Homo sapiens: one gene and its partner. The protein of the gene in region 2 interacts with the protein of the main gene of each other region in a pairwise test. Each region holds a gene or a part of one and is shown on either strand. Other genes may lie near its edges.

What was found. The genes of interacting proteins can lie anywhere in the genome.
Region 1: the proteins of PLEKHM2 (region 2) and RAB9A interact in binary tests that used the Homo sapiens proteins (3 or more experiments, as listed by UniProt).

The regions. Positions count from the first base shown.
Region 1 is NC_000023.11:13,705,278-13,711,506, reverse strand, and holds the end of RAB9A (ras-related protein Rab-9A), read right to left. Parts: intron 2,787-6,229; 5' UTR 2,761-2,786; coding exon 2,155-2,760; 3' UTR 1,003-2,154; downstream 1-1,002. UniProt on the Homo sapiens protein: The small GTPases Rab are key regulators of intracellular membrane trafficking, from the formation of transport vesicles to their fusion with membranes.
Region 2 is NC_000001.11:15,686,461-15,695,320, reverse strand, and holds part of PLEKHM2 (pleckstrin homology domain-containing family M member 2), read right to left. Parts: intron 1-8,860. UniProt on the Homo sapiens protein: Plays a role in lysosomes movement and localization at the cell periphery acting as an effector of ARL8B.

The sequences.
Region 1 (6,229 bases), on a different chromosome or scaffold from region 2:
GCTCCAAAAGTGATCCAGATAAAACGTACACCGAGTTTTGTCATCTTGCCATAGCCAGAAACTTACTAGGATGCTTCCTTTGGCATGGACATAGATCGTCTCAGTCTCTGCTCTGCCCATGCTATTACCCATGTGCTTTAATTTTTCAGTCACTTCAACACTTCCTGGTTGACAGTCCAGAGTTCCAGAAACCACTGACTCTCCAGACACCACCTTTCACTGGGTACCACACTGGTGTGTTTTTCTACTTAACAAACACTTCACTACTCTACAAGACACGGATATTGTGTGAGAACTTGCATGGTGGTGTCACAATATTAAAATGAAAAGTTTGTACAGAAATATAAAAAGGTTTTCTTCTAAGACAAGTAATAGTAGGAATGTTTTAACTTCAACTAGGAAACTTTCCCCAAGGGTGAAAAATAAAAACATTTAGTCCATTAATGAATTGTAATTTTGTATCTTCCACACAGCACATTGTAATTGTTACATCAGTTAACAAATGCAGGTTTGTCTGTTCTCCAGTTCAGTAGTTTGCTTTTTTTTTTTTTTTTTTTTTTTTTGAGGTGGAGTCTCACTGTCACCAGGCTGGAGTGCAGTGATGTGATCTCGGCTCACTGCAACCTCCACCTTCCGGGTTCAAGTGATTCTCCTGCGTCAGCCTTCCGAGAAGCTGGGACTACAGGCACGATGCCCAACTAATTTTTGTATTTTTAGTAGAGACCGGGTTCACCATGTTGTCAAGGATGGTGTCGACCTCTTGACCTCCAAAAGTGTTGGGATTGCAGGCGTGAGCCACCGCGCCTGGCCTTGCCTTTTTTCTTAAAACCGAACTGTATCTCTGCTGGGGGCAGTGGTTCACTCCCTACATGACAGTCAGCTCCTCTCACCCAGCATGTCCTTTGATATCCCCATCACTCCCCAGTTGAGGGTCTCATCCACACTCAGTCTAGGCTTTGGTTAGCCTCCATAGAATCAGATAGTCACCAACCACACAGCATATGAACTTCATCCACAAAAGACCACAATTTGCTTTATCAAGTCTGATCACTGCAACAAGTCTTTTTCTAACAAAAAATCTCCTTGAGAGCAAATCACTAAATGTTCAGTAATAGAGAAGACACTAAGTAAATACATTGCCGAATAAAGATGTCTTCGTTTACCCTCTCACAAAGTACAATCCTTCTTAGTATTTCTTCTGAGAGTGATAAAGTCAGCTTGTGTCTTGTGTTATAAAGGAATGTTTTAACTTCAATTAAGAAACTTTCCCCAAGGGTCAAGAAAGTAACAAAAATATTTAGTCCATTAATCGAATTGTAATTTTGTATCTTCCACACAGTACATTGTAATTATTACATCAGTTATCAAATGCACATTTGTCTGTTCTCCAAGTTCAGTAGTTAGCCTTTTTCTTAAAACTGAACTCTATCTATGGAAAGGCTTTCCATTCATAGACAACTTGAATTTAGCTGGATGTATTACAGACTGTATGAAGCAACTCTTGTACCACTGGGGGCCCACCCTCCGCCTGAGACTGTGGAACATGATTTATGGGGGTGGGGGTGCATGAATGGCACACAAATGATGAGTAATTACTAGTGAGAGTAATTCTAGTATGTAGAATGAAAACAGGAATGGTTAAATCATTTTGAAGAGAATGAAGAAGTAAATTAACAATGCATTGCAAATACATTAGATTTTAATCTTTAATATCTAACATTATTGCTTTAGGAAAGTATTTCCCTGAACCAAGAATACAATGCTAATTGCATAAAAACATACACATATAAAAAGTAGTTCTCCATTTTCCCAGGAAAAAATCCAAGTATAACTTCTAGAATAGTCAAGTTTCTTATTTTTATTATAATTAAAGTCTTGGTCATTTCATTTATTAGCTCTGCAACTTACATATTTAAATTAAAGAAACGTTATTAGACAACTGTTACAATTTATAAATGTAAGGTGCCATTATTGAGTAAATATATTCCTCCAAGAGTGGATGTGTCCCTTCTCCCACCAACTAATGAAGCAGCAACATTAGTTTAATTTTATTAGTAGATGATACACTGCTGCAAACGCTAATTCTCTTCTCCATCCCCATGTTGATTTTGTGTATATGTGTGAGTTGGTTAGAATGCATCAACAATCTAACAATCAACAGCAAGATGAGCTAGGCTTGGGCTTTCGGTGAAGATTGACTGTGTCTGTCTGAATCAAATGATCTGACCTATCCTCGGTAGCAAGAACTCTTCGAACCGCTTCCTCAAAGGCTGCTGCCACATTTGTGGCATCTTTTGCACTTGTTTCAAAATAAGGATAGTCGCCGTTGTCCCTGCACCAAGCTTGGGCTTCTTCTGTAGACACCTGCCGTTCGCTTATGTCAATCTTGTTACCCAGAATCACAAAAGGAAAGCTCTCAGGCTCTTTCACATCTGCATAATATATGAATTCTTTCTTCCAGTTACTTAAGTTCTGGAAGCTTTGTGAATCATCGACACTAAAAGTAAGCAGGCAGCAGTCAGAACCTCTGTAAAATGGTGTCCTCAGGCTTCGGAATCGCTCCTGACCTGCCGTGTCCCAAATCTGCATGGTAACAAAATGTCCATCCACTTCCAAATCTTTATTTAAAAATTCCACACCTATTGTATGGAAGAGCTGGGTATCAAACTTATTAGTTACATATCTGTTCATAAGTGAACTCTTCCCAACTCCACCATCTCCAAGGAGAATTACTTTAAAAAGTGATGATTTTCCTGCCATTGTTAATCTCAAAAGCTTCAAGAACCCTGTAAAATAAAAAGGCACCATTACATTCCTTTATACCTACACATTCTTCTACATGATTCTACGAATATCAGCATTTAGCTGAAATAAAACATATGGCCCCAGGGAATACCTAATAATAAGACTTGTTGTTTACTGAGCACTTAGCCATGTGCAGGCTACTATTCTACCATTATTCTCTGAAACAGCTGGGAAGGGCTCACTCTTCCCTTTTCTCAGGTCACAGTTGACTGTGAAGCTGGCACTCAAGCCCAAGTCTGACCCCAAAGCCCTTGCTCTGAACCGTTACTCTATGATAAGCCCCTCTCTGCTCATAGTAAGCCCCACCATTTGTTAGAGATGGGTAGGAGACCAAAGTTCGCATGTTGTTGTTGTTGTTGTTTTGGTTTTGTTTTTTTTTTTGAGACAGGATCTCGCTGTCACCCAGGTTGGAGTGCATGGGACCATCTTGGCTTACTGCAGCCTTGAACTCCCAGGCTCAAGCAATCCTCCCACCTCAGCCTCCCAAGTAGCTGAAATCACAGGTGCACACCACCATGCCTTGCTAATTTTTCTATTTTTTTGTAGAGACAGGGTCTCAACCACGTTGCCCAGGCTGGCTTCAAACTCCTGGGCCCAAGCAATCCACCTGTCTTGGCCTCCCAAAGTGCTGGGACTACAGGCGTGAGACACCATGCCCAGCCCACATGTTTCTCTTAACAACTTCAAACAGCCCTTCAGTGCACAGTGATGGTGTTCACTTAAGGCCTCTCTCCTACCAGGGACTTTCTCTACTACTCCCTCCACCTCTCTTCAGACACAGGTGCTGTTAACCAGGAAAGCCAGAGACAGAAACTGACTTACCTGGCTGTGAAATAAAGTATGAACCAACCACTGAGTAAATGGACTTTATTCTCTTCATTAAGAACATTATTTTGAATTTGTTCAAATTAATGTCAGCAGCAATGGAATTTTTAATATAATCTAGCACATTCTATCCACAAGATTCACTTGGGCAGTTCAAACACTTAAGGAACATGAGACTGCTGCTACTTGTGTGTTTTCAGGTAGAATGAAATAAACCTTAAATGAAAATGTGGTACTATATGTGTTCTTTAGAAGTCCTGTGGCAGGATTAAAAACTTTACTACACTACAAGAGCCAGCCTGTGGGGGGTGAGATTTCAGATGCCCGTTGACAGACAGCTACTTCTAGGTGCTGGTGGGAGCACAGTTCCTGGTTAATCCTTCTGCTTACATTTTTATTGTGAAAAATGTAAAACATGTACAAAATTTCTATATAATGAGTACAATACAATGAGCTCCCATGAACTCTAAACCCAGCTTCACAATTATCAACTTATGGCAAATCTTGTTTCCTCCATAACCCCTCCAACTCTCCCTTCTCCCCAGTTATTTCGAATCAGATTATATCATTTAATCTGTACTTTAGTATTAAATGGTTTTTAAGTATACTAAAATGTATATAAGAAGATAACTATTAGAGCAGCACTGTACAAGAGAATTTTATGCAACAATGGAAATGTCCAATATAGCAGCCACTTAGCCGCATGTGACTGTGGAACACTTGACATGAGGCTGATGGAAGTGAAAAACCGCATTTTAAATTTTATTCAATTTTAAATAAATAGCCACATTTAATGAGCCAATTGGAGAGCACAGATCTAGAGCAAATTTGGTCAATAACCTTAATAGGAAAGTAGGTATTATGAATCCCTCCATGGGAAGGCAATAAAGACATGAACAATAATTGTTATATTGACCAGGATGAATTTGTAAAATCACTGCAGTAAACATTATCTGGCTGTCTCCTGGTTATATGCAATGTGAGCAACTATAGTGTAACTGAACACTTACTGTAACATGTAGGAATTCTGCACTTCTAGCCACATGCTCCACTGTTCTGATAAAAACCTTGTAGTGGCTTGTATAGTGAGAAATCAAGTGAATGGGAAATACTATTAAAAAATGATGGGACATACCTTAGTCCCTACCTCTTACTGGTTCTTTCAAATTACTACTACAGGCCAGGCACGATGGCTCACACCTGTAATCCCAGCACTTGGGGAGGCTGAGGCGGGCAGGTCACTTGAGGTCAGGAGTTCGAGACCAGCCTGGCCAACATGGTGAAACCCCGTCTCTACTAAAAATACAAAAAAAAAAAAAAAATTAGCTGGACGTGGTGGCAAGCGCCTGTAGTCCCAGGTACTAGGCTGAGGCAGGAGAATCCCTTGAACCTGGGAGGCGTAGGTTGCCGTGAGCTGAGATTGCACCACTGCACTCCAGCCTAGGTGACAAAGCAAGACTCCATCTCAAAAAACAAAACAAATTAATACTACAGTAATTACTACTATAATTAATATTAATACAATTTAAACTGTCCAACACAAGTGTGTGGCAGTTAAGGTGCATACCTTTTGAGAGACTTTTTCAATTTCAAATGTATTGCTCAATATCCAGACTATTAATGTTAAAGAGGAAACTGCAACAGTCCCAAGCCCCTTACTTTCCTGACATAGGTAACAATGTGCTAAATTGGCTGCTTTAATTCTTTGGCATCTTGCTTCAACAACTTAAAAAGAAAAGATTGAAAACCATAAAAGCAAACCAACTATTTTGACATAGGGGAACCATCTATCTAATGTCTCCTCAGAATTCTTCAGCGGGTTGTTTCCCAGAGATCCAGGACTAAGTCCAACTTCTAAGGCAAGACACCTGGCCCCTGCTCTTGGCCAGCCTCACTCTAGCCACCTTCCCCTCACAGTCTCTGCTTCAGTCATTCTGAATGCACCATCACCCGGAACTAAAATTCAATTCCACTCACTCAGCACACCCCACACCCTCTTGCCTCCACCCTGGCATATGCTGCTCCTTGCTGGTGACCCCCCCAATGAACCGCTGTGCCTTCAGAACTGCTTAGCATGGTCACCTCCACTGGGAACCCTGCCCCAGCAACTCTCCCAATGTTGTTCCTTTCACACAATTTCCATGTTGTGTTATGAGAGTACAACAGACATAATTTATTCCAGTATTTTAATAAGTCTCTACTGATCTAACAGCCTTACCAGACACAAAGTTTTACTGTACATCACTGAATTTTTAGCATCTTTATATCAAATTATAAGCCAGATCATGCAATCTAACAAACCCCACCCAGACTATTGGTTGCATATATCTACTAAATTAAGTTGTAGAAATTCCTTGAAAGTGGTAATTTGTAATTTTTCCAAGACACTTTGACAGTTCTTTTTTCATAATAATGTGGGACTTCTTAGTTTGTCTCATTCTGACCAAATGAATTTGGGGTATGCCAGCCCACCAGGAAACAGAGTATAGGGTACAATTTTTTACATTTCCCATCTACAGTTTGAGGCCTACCAGATATTCCTATTTGGGAATATATTTGCATTTGCTAAAATAATTAATTTCTACATGAATATCTCTCT
Region 2 (8,860 bases):
GCAAAAGTGTGAACAATGAAGGTTGATTACCCTCAAAAATTAAGTTTGGAGATTTTTGTGTATTTCAAGCACGCATCAGTTCCTTCCTTGTACTCGCATAATATTGGGTTTCTCAGAATCTGTTAGTTCCAACTGTTAAATACAGTTATCTGGGGAGGAAGGGAATTATAAGAAACTAATACCTTCTTCCTTATGTATTTGTGCAATGTTTGTAGACACTTATGGCAAAGGAGGAAAAGATAAATTACAAGTACACAGCATGAGGCCAGGTGCGGTGGCTCATGCCTATAAGCCCAGGACTTTGGGAGGCCAAGGCAGGTGGATCACTTGATGTCAGAAGTTCAAGACCAGCCTGGCCAATATGATGAAACCCCGTCTCTACTAAAAATACAAAAACTAGCCCAACATGGTGGTGCCTGCCTGTAATCCCAGCTACTTGGGAGGCTGAGGCAGGAGAATCACTTGAACCCAGGAGGTGAAGGTTGCAGTGAGCAGAAATCACACCACTGCCCTCCAGCCTGGGCAACAGAGTGAGACTCTGTCTCAAAAAACAAAAAAAAAAAACAAAACAAAATACACAGCATGGAGGAGAATATCTGTGTAGAGGGCCACCTGCTTCACTGGCAAGAGGTTAGGAGAAGCTCTCAGGACCCTGGATGGTTTCAATAACGGATAGATCAATGGCCTAAACTTTAATCTCCCGCGGAAAGGACTCTCCCAGAAATCATCCTTATTCACCTGCCTCAAATGGAAGTTCTAGGATGTTTGCACCTGGAATGAGCAACACCAAGGAGGATAGGGCTGGAAAGGAGACTTCACCCAAACCAACCGGCCCTGCTGCCTGGTTTAGACCCTCAAGGAGGAGAGCTCGGGGCCCAGAGTTGCTCATTCTCTATTGCATGGCAGTTCCCAGATCCCAGGCTTAGAAACCTGTTTTTTTGTTTGTTTGTTTGTTTTTTGTGTTTTTTTTTTGAGATGGAGTCTCGCTCTGTCGCTCAGGCTAGAGTACAGTGGCGCGATCTTGGCTCACTGCGACCTCCACCTCCTGGGTTCAAGCGATTCTCCTGCCTCAGCCTCCTGAGATGGGATTACATGCATGTGCCACCATGCCCAGTTAATTTTTGTATTTTTAGTAGAGACGGGGTTTCACCATGTTGGTCAAGCTGGTCTCGAACTCCTGATCTCGTGATCTGCCCGCCTGGGTCTCCCAAAGTGCTGGGATTACAGACATGAGCCACCACACCTGGCCAAGAAACCTGTTTTATCAGCAGAGGTGGCAACCCAGAGAGCTTTCTGTCATGAGAAAAGCTCTACTGCTTCCGTTGGACAGAAGGGCACTGCCAGCTCCAGCAGCAACACACTCCTGCCGTGGTGGTGAATCCTGATGCCTGAGATGGGCACTGGAGACTCCTGAGGTAGGAATGACCCAGCCAGGAGCCCCACAATCCCTGCAAATGCCAACCTTCTTCTCCCCACAACTGTCACGAACTGAACACCAGCTCTTGCCTTTCCACATTAAGGCTTGTGTGGACCACTCTGCCTCTTACTCAATGTTTCCAGACCTAACATTTGTGTCAGCTGGCAGCAGAATTTTAGTTTTGCTGGGAATTTCTTTTCACACTGGGCTCCAGCTGGATGAGTTCTGAGGGAGACCACTGCTCCATCTGAAGCTCCGGAGTGTTAGCCATAATGGCAGAATGACCACAGACAGTCAGCCCCGTCTGAACAGCCTGTTGCTGCCAGATGGTGACCTGTTTCTGTTAAACCCCAGTGAGTTTCTGCCTGGCCTCAAATCATCACACAGGGCCTTTCAATCTGGATAGGCCTAAGCCATGGCCAAACCATGGAGAGAGCGAGCCCAGGTTGTTCTGTGATGGGATGGAAAGGACCACACAGTGTCACAAGGTTTCCAACAGAAACCTGACGTCAGAGAAGCATTTCGTAAAAGGAGAACCATATCTTAAAAGTGAACGGGCATGGGTCCGGGTGAGATGGCTCATGCCTGTAATCCCAGCACTTTGGGAGGCCAAGGCGGGCGGATCACTTGAGACCAGGAGTTCAAGACCAGCCTGACCAACATGGTGAAACCCCATCCCTACTAAAAATACACAAATTAGCCAGGTGTGGTGGTGGGCACCTGTAATCCTAGCTACTCAGGAGGCTGAGGCAGGAGAATCTCTTGAACCCAGGAGGTGGAGGTTGCAGTGAGCCGAGATTGCGCCACTGCCCTACAGCCTGGGCAACGGAGAGAGACTTTGTCTCAAAAAAAAAAAAAAAAGTGTGGCTAGGCACGGTGGCTCGCGCCTATAATCCCAGCACTTTGGGAGGCCAAGGCAGGTGGATCACTTGAGGTCAGGAGTTCAAGACCAGCCTGACCAACATGGTGAAACCCCATCTCTACTAAAAATACAAAATTATCTGGGCATGGTGGTGCATGCCTATAATCCCAGCTACTTGGGAGGCTGAGGCAGGAGAATCACTTGAACCAGGGAGAAGGAGGTTGCAGTGAGCCGAGATCGTGCCACCGTGCTCCAGCCTGAGTAACAAGAGCAAAACTCCATTAAAAAAAGAAAAAGTGAATGGGGCATGGACACAGTGGCTTGCACCTGTAACCCCACACTTTGGGAGGCTGGAGTGAGAGGAAGGCTTGAGGCCAGGAGTTCAAGACCAGCCTTAGCAACACAGGGAGACTCAGTCTCTACAAAAAAACCAAAAAACGAAAAAAGTGAATGGGCAGGGCTCAGAAAAAGCAGTTATCACTTCTCCACTAGTATCTCCTCCTGAGCCTGGGTGGAGTTACTCATGGGGTCAGGATCCCTCTGTGCACGACATGGTTTCCGGGTTAGGGACCTTCAGGTCCCTCCCCGCCCTCACCAGACAGCCTTTACTCTGGGAGAGAGGAAAGAAGGGAAATAGCTACTGAGAATTTAGGAAAAGGAGGAAGAGGAGCAGGCAGAAGGCACACTGACCCTTAACACTTCAGTTTGTAACGTGTGTGTAGATACTATTTTATGTAAATCTTTGTCCTGGTGACTCAGGTCCTTAGGGATTTTGAGAACATTTAAAACTCTTATGAGTTTTTCTGTAAAGCCACAGAGAACAAAACTATTGATCTAAACCAAATAGTCAATACAATTTTTACATCTACCTACCTACCAGTCCCTCTCCAGGAATGAGCTACCCCAGCTAATTTTTTTTTTCCCCCGCCGAGACAGGGTCTCACTCTGTCACCCAGGCTGGAGTGTAATGGCATGATCCTGGCTCACTGCAGCCTCGAACTTCTGGGCTCAAGTGACCCTCCTGCCTCAGCCTCCTGAGTAGCTGGGACTATAGGCATGTGCCACCATGTCCACCTAATTTTTTATTTTTATTTTTGAAGACACAGGGTCTCATTATGTTGCACAGGCTGGTCTTGAATTCCTGGACTCAAGTGATCCTCCCACCTCAGCCCCGCAAAGTGCTGGGATTATAGTTGTGAGCCACTATGCCCACTGCCTCGCCTCCCCGCCCCCAGCTAATTTTTTTGTACTTGCAGATCTAACCTATCTCAGGAGTAGAAAAATGAGAAAAAGTTCACCATGCAAGGCAGCCTTTTCAACTGCACAGACAGGCTGGGCTGAACAACAGCTGTGGCTCATTCACCAGCGCCAGTAAATCCCGATCCCGACTAGGGACTGGGAGACTCCTGCTCAAGGCAGTGTGCCTGGCCAGAAATAGAACTTCACTCAGAGCCGACGCCGGTGAGGCACTGTCTGCCCAAACCGAAGTGGGTGGGAGACTGAGGCGAGAGAAGGTTGTCAGGACCCAGGAACTGAGAGATGGTTACCCTATTACAATTCATTTATCCCTTTTAAAGGGTAGGAGAACAGGGGCAATTACTTTTCATTTTATGTACTTCTGAGCTATTTGTGTGTTTTTAAAAACAACTATTTTCTTAGAATAATTTTACGGCCAAGTGCAGTGGCTCATGCCTGTAATCTTAGCACTTATGCAGGCCGAGGTGGGAGGATCACCTGAGCTCAGGAGTTCGAGACCAACCTGGGCAACATAGTGAGACCTTGTCTCCACACTAAAAAATTAAAAATTAGCTGGACGTGGTGGCATATGTCTGTAGTTCCAGCTACTCAGGTGGCTGAGGCGGGAGAATCGCTTGATCCCAGGAGTTGAAGGCTACAGTGAGCCATGATGGTGCCACTGTACTCCAGCCTGGGCCACAGAGTGAAACCCTGTCTCAAACAAACACACACACAAAAAGAATCATTTTTCATTCTCTTATCCTACTCAGTGTCCCTTGCAGGATGCAATGTCATTGCCTTAGGGAATCTTCCCTGATCGTCTCCAAAGCAAACCTCCCTGCCAATTCTTTATCACATTGCTTTAATGCCTTCATAATGCTTACCATGATCTGAAATCATCTCTGTATTTGTCTACGAATTTATCACCTTCTTTTTCTTCTAGAATGTCAGCTCCATGAGGGCAGATACTCATCTGCCTGTTCATATGAACCTTCCTAGGGCCTATGATGGTGAGGTTCTAGGGAAGGTGCTCACTAAATAGTTTTGAATAACTGAATACAGGGACACATGATGGGATTTACAAGTGTCCACATTCACTCCACAAGCCTAATGTGCAAAAACACAGCTACAATAGAGATTTGGTTAACTATAGCACTGGTGCACCAACTTCTCTGGAAGTAATCCCTGGCCTACCTTGGCAAGGACTTTTTCATATGAACACATGCGTCGTATGCGAACTACTGCCTGTGGGCTAAAACCAGCCTGATACCTATTTTTGTAAATAAAGTTTTATTGGAACAAAGCCACACTCATACACATTTGGTTGCTTTTGAGCAGAACTGAGCAGTTTCAACAAAGACTATACGGCCTGAAAATATTTGCCATGTGGCCTTTTAAGAAAAAGTTGGAGCTTGAAGAAACAGCAGTGTAGTATAAGACTCTCACTGAAGCCGGAGGCAGTGGCTCACGACTGTACTTTGGGAGGCCAAGGTGGGTGTATTACTGGAAACCAGGAGTTTGAGACCAGCCTGGCCAACATGGTGAAACCCTGTCTCTACTAAAAATACAAAAATTAGCAGGGCGTGGTGGTCTGTGCCCGTAATCCCAGCTACTTGGAGGTTGAGGCACGAGAATTGCTTGAACCCAGGAGGAGGGGGTTGCAGTGAACCAAGATCATGCCACTGCACTCCAGTCTGGGTGACAGAGCAAGACTGTCTCAAAAAAACAAAACAAAAAAAAAAAAAACCTCGGCTGGGTGCGGTGGCTCACACCTGTAATCCCAGCACTTTGGGAGGCCGAAGCAGGCAGATCACCTGAGGTAGGGAGTTTGAGGCCAGCCTGGCCAACATGGCGAAACCCTGTCTCTACTAAAAATACAAAATTAGCCAGGCGTAGTGGCTCATGCCTGTAATCCCAGCTACTTGGGAGGCTGAGGCTCGAGAATCACTTGAACTTGGGAGGCGGAGGTTGCAGTGAGCTGAGATCGTGCCACTGCACTCCAGCCTGGGCAACAAGAGCGAAATTCCGTCTCAAAAACAAAAACACAAAAAACACCACCACTCACTGAAGACTGCACAAGGGTGATCTGCAGAGTCCACAGAGACGCTTGCAAGTAGTAATGGTGGCTTTTATTTAGGCCTGACTGTAAGCAAGGTATTGTGCTAAGTGCTGTAAGTGTGTTCTCTCATATAATTGAATTATCATTATAGCATTAGTAGAAGGTTCTCACTGCTGATGCGAACAGTGGTCCAGTCATCTGCCAGGATCGAGATGGTCAGTTACAAACCCAGACCCAAGTCTGCATACCGCTGAAGCCTGCGTTTGTGTCCACTAGGCTACATGGCTTCCACAGAAAGCACCTTCCAGCCGCATCTTGCAGAACCCTTGGCAATCTTAAGACAGGTCCCTCTTAAGACAGGTCACGCCTGTCCTCGGAAGACCATCTGGAAGGCCCCACTTCCTTGGGGATGCCTAGGCTGTTTCTTCTGTCTTGAATGCCTGCTTCTTCTCTTTCTCTGAACTCTACCAGTATTTCTTTCTTTCTTTTTTTTTTTTTTTTGAGACGGAGTTTCGCTCTTTTTGCCCAGGCTGGAGTGCAATGGTGCCACAACTCACCACAACCTCCGCCTCCCGAGTTTAAGCGATTCTCCTGCCTCAGCCTCCCGAGTAGCTGGGATTACAGGTATGCACCACCACACCTAGCTAATTTTGTATTTTTAATAGAGATGGGGTTTCTCGATGTTGGTCAGGCCGGTCTCGATCTCCTGACCTCAGGTGATCCGCCCGCCTCGGCCTCCCAAAGTGTTGGGGTTACAGGCATGAGCCACCGCGCCTGGCCAGGAGGTTGCTTCTTATGGCATATAGTCTTTGCTCATTCTGCAGGCATATGCAGCAGACACACCAGCTCCTCAAAAACAGAACTTGGGAAAATCACTGCCTGCCTTCCCTCCCCTGGAGAAGATGTTATTTAGTAGAACCACATGCTGATTCAAAAATGCCAAAGCTGTCGTTGACTTGGACATTTCTCTTTAACAAATCGGCAACCACAGGCTTTACTGGCAGCATCTGGGATGTTTCTGCTACTAGCTCCCTTTCTAGAATTGAATATGAATTGAATTTGCTATTGTTATCATTTCCTTTTTTTTTTTTTTTTTTGAGACAGAGTCTCCCTCTGTCACCCACGCTGGAGTGCAATGGCGCGATCTCAGTTCACTGCAACCTCCACCTCCCAGGTCAAGTGCTTCCCTGCCTCAGCCTCCCAAGTAGCTGGGACTACAGGCACGCGCCACCACACCCAGCTAATTTCTGTATTTTTGGTAGAGATGGGGTTTCACCATGTTGGCAAGGCTGGTCTTGAACTTCTGGCCTCAAGTTATCCATCCACCTTGGCCTCCCAAAGTGCTGGGATTACAGGCGTGAGCCACCATGCCTGGCCTATTGTTATCATTTTCATTTAATCATGTTAATTATTAAACTCTCCAGTTCTCTCTCACCCTCAGGAATTCTGTGTCCATATCAGAACACAGGTTGCCTTGGATTCAGATGGATTAACAGCTGTTTCACCTGTCTGGTGTTATAATGGGTATTCACCATCACAAAATCTAAGTGTGAAAATAGTTGAACTCAACAATACTCCTTGGGGATAGTGGTTGCTTTGAGGGTGTAGTTTCTGGGAGGGGAACGAGGGGCCCTCTGGGATAATGGTCATGTTCTGTTTCTTGGTCAGGGTGCTGGATATGCAGGTGTTTTCACTTTGTGAGAACTCATTAAGCTGTCCGCTCAGGACCTGTACACTTTCCTGTAGGCATGCTTCATTTTCATAAAAAGTTCTAAAGTACTCTTTGCAAATATAGAAATACACAATGGATCTTTCCTTGCAGAAATATGCATCTCATTTTCTTCACGTAAAATCCTTATAAAATGACCAGTAAGACCATTTACTGGTGGTAGGATGCAAGAAAAAAGGCAAAGCAACTCTCAAGGTGCTATATAACACATTTAGGTGAGACTGGCATTCAAGGACAAATCTGACCCCAAGACTGCTGTCCTCAATGTCTACTGCTGTAGCCAAACTAACAGGTTCCTAGTAAAGCAGACACTCTGATTCAGAAAACCAAATGTAATTTATGATGCAAGAATCACATCGCAGTTGTCTCAAACAAACACACAAAGGAAGTGGCTACCAAGAACAAATGGTGTTGTAGAACGACCTTTAGGTGGTGAGGCAGTTGAGCCATCTTCAAACCTTGTAAAATTGAGGAATGGGCTCTTGCACAAAGAAAAAAGCTACCAGTTAAGACTGGGCCAGGATCCATGCTAAACACTCTACATGTTTATTAAAACTTCACCATGCCTGTAATCCCAGCACTTTGGGAGGCCGAGGTGAGCGGATCATGAGGTCAGGAGATCGAGACCATCCTGGCTAACACGGTGAAACCCCGTCTCTACTAAAAATACAAAAAAATTAGCCGGGCATAGTGGCGGGCGCCTGTAACCTGTAGTCCCAGCTACTCGGGAGGCTGAGGCAGGAGAATGGCGTGAACCTGAGAGACGGAGCTTGCAGCGAGCTGAGATCACGCCACTGCACTCCAGCCTGGGTGACAGAGCAAGACTCCATCTCAAAAAAAACAAAAAACAAAAAACAAACAAACAAAATCTTCATAACACAGCCTGACCAATATGGGCGAAATCCCATCTCTACAAAAAATACAAAAAGTAGTCGGGCACGGTGGCTCATGCCTGTAATCCCAGCACTTCGGGGGGCCAAGGCAGGCAGATCACTTGAGGTCAGGAGTTCAAGACCAGCCTGGCCAACATGGGGAAACCCCATCTCCACTAAAAATACAAAAATTAGACGCTGGGCGCCGTGGCTCACGCCTGTAATCCCAGCACTTTGGGAGGCCGAAGCGGGCAGATCACAAGGTGAGGAGATCGAGACCATCCCTGGTTAACATGGTGAAACCCCGTCTCTACTAAAAATACAAAAAAATTAGCCGGGCGTGGTGGCCGGCGCTTATAGTCCCAGCTACTTGGGAGGCTGAGGCAGGAGAATGGTGTGAACCCATGAGGCGGAGCTTGCACTGAGCGGAGATCAGGCCACTGCATTCTAACCTGGGCGACAGAGCGAGACTCCGTCTCAAAAAAAAAAAAAAAAAATTTAGCCGGGTGTGGTGGCGCACACCTGTAATCCCAGCTACTCGAGAGGCCGAGGCAGAAGAATCGCTTGAACCTGGGAGGTGGAGGTTGTAGTGAGCCGAGATCACACCACTGCCCTCCAGCCCAGGCAACAGAGCAAGACTCTGTCTCAAAAACAAACAACAACAACAACAACAACAAAAAAACAC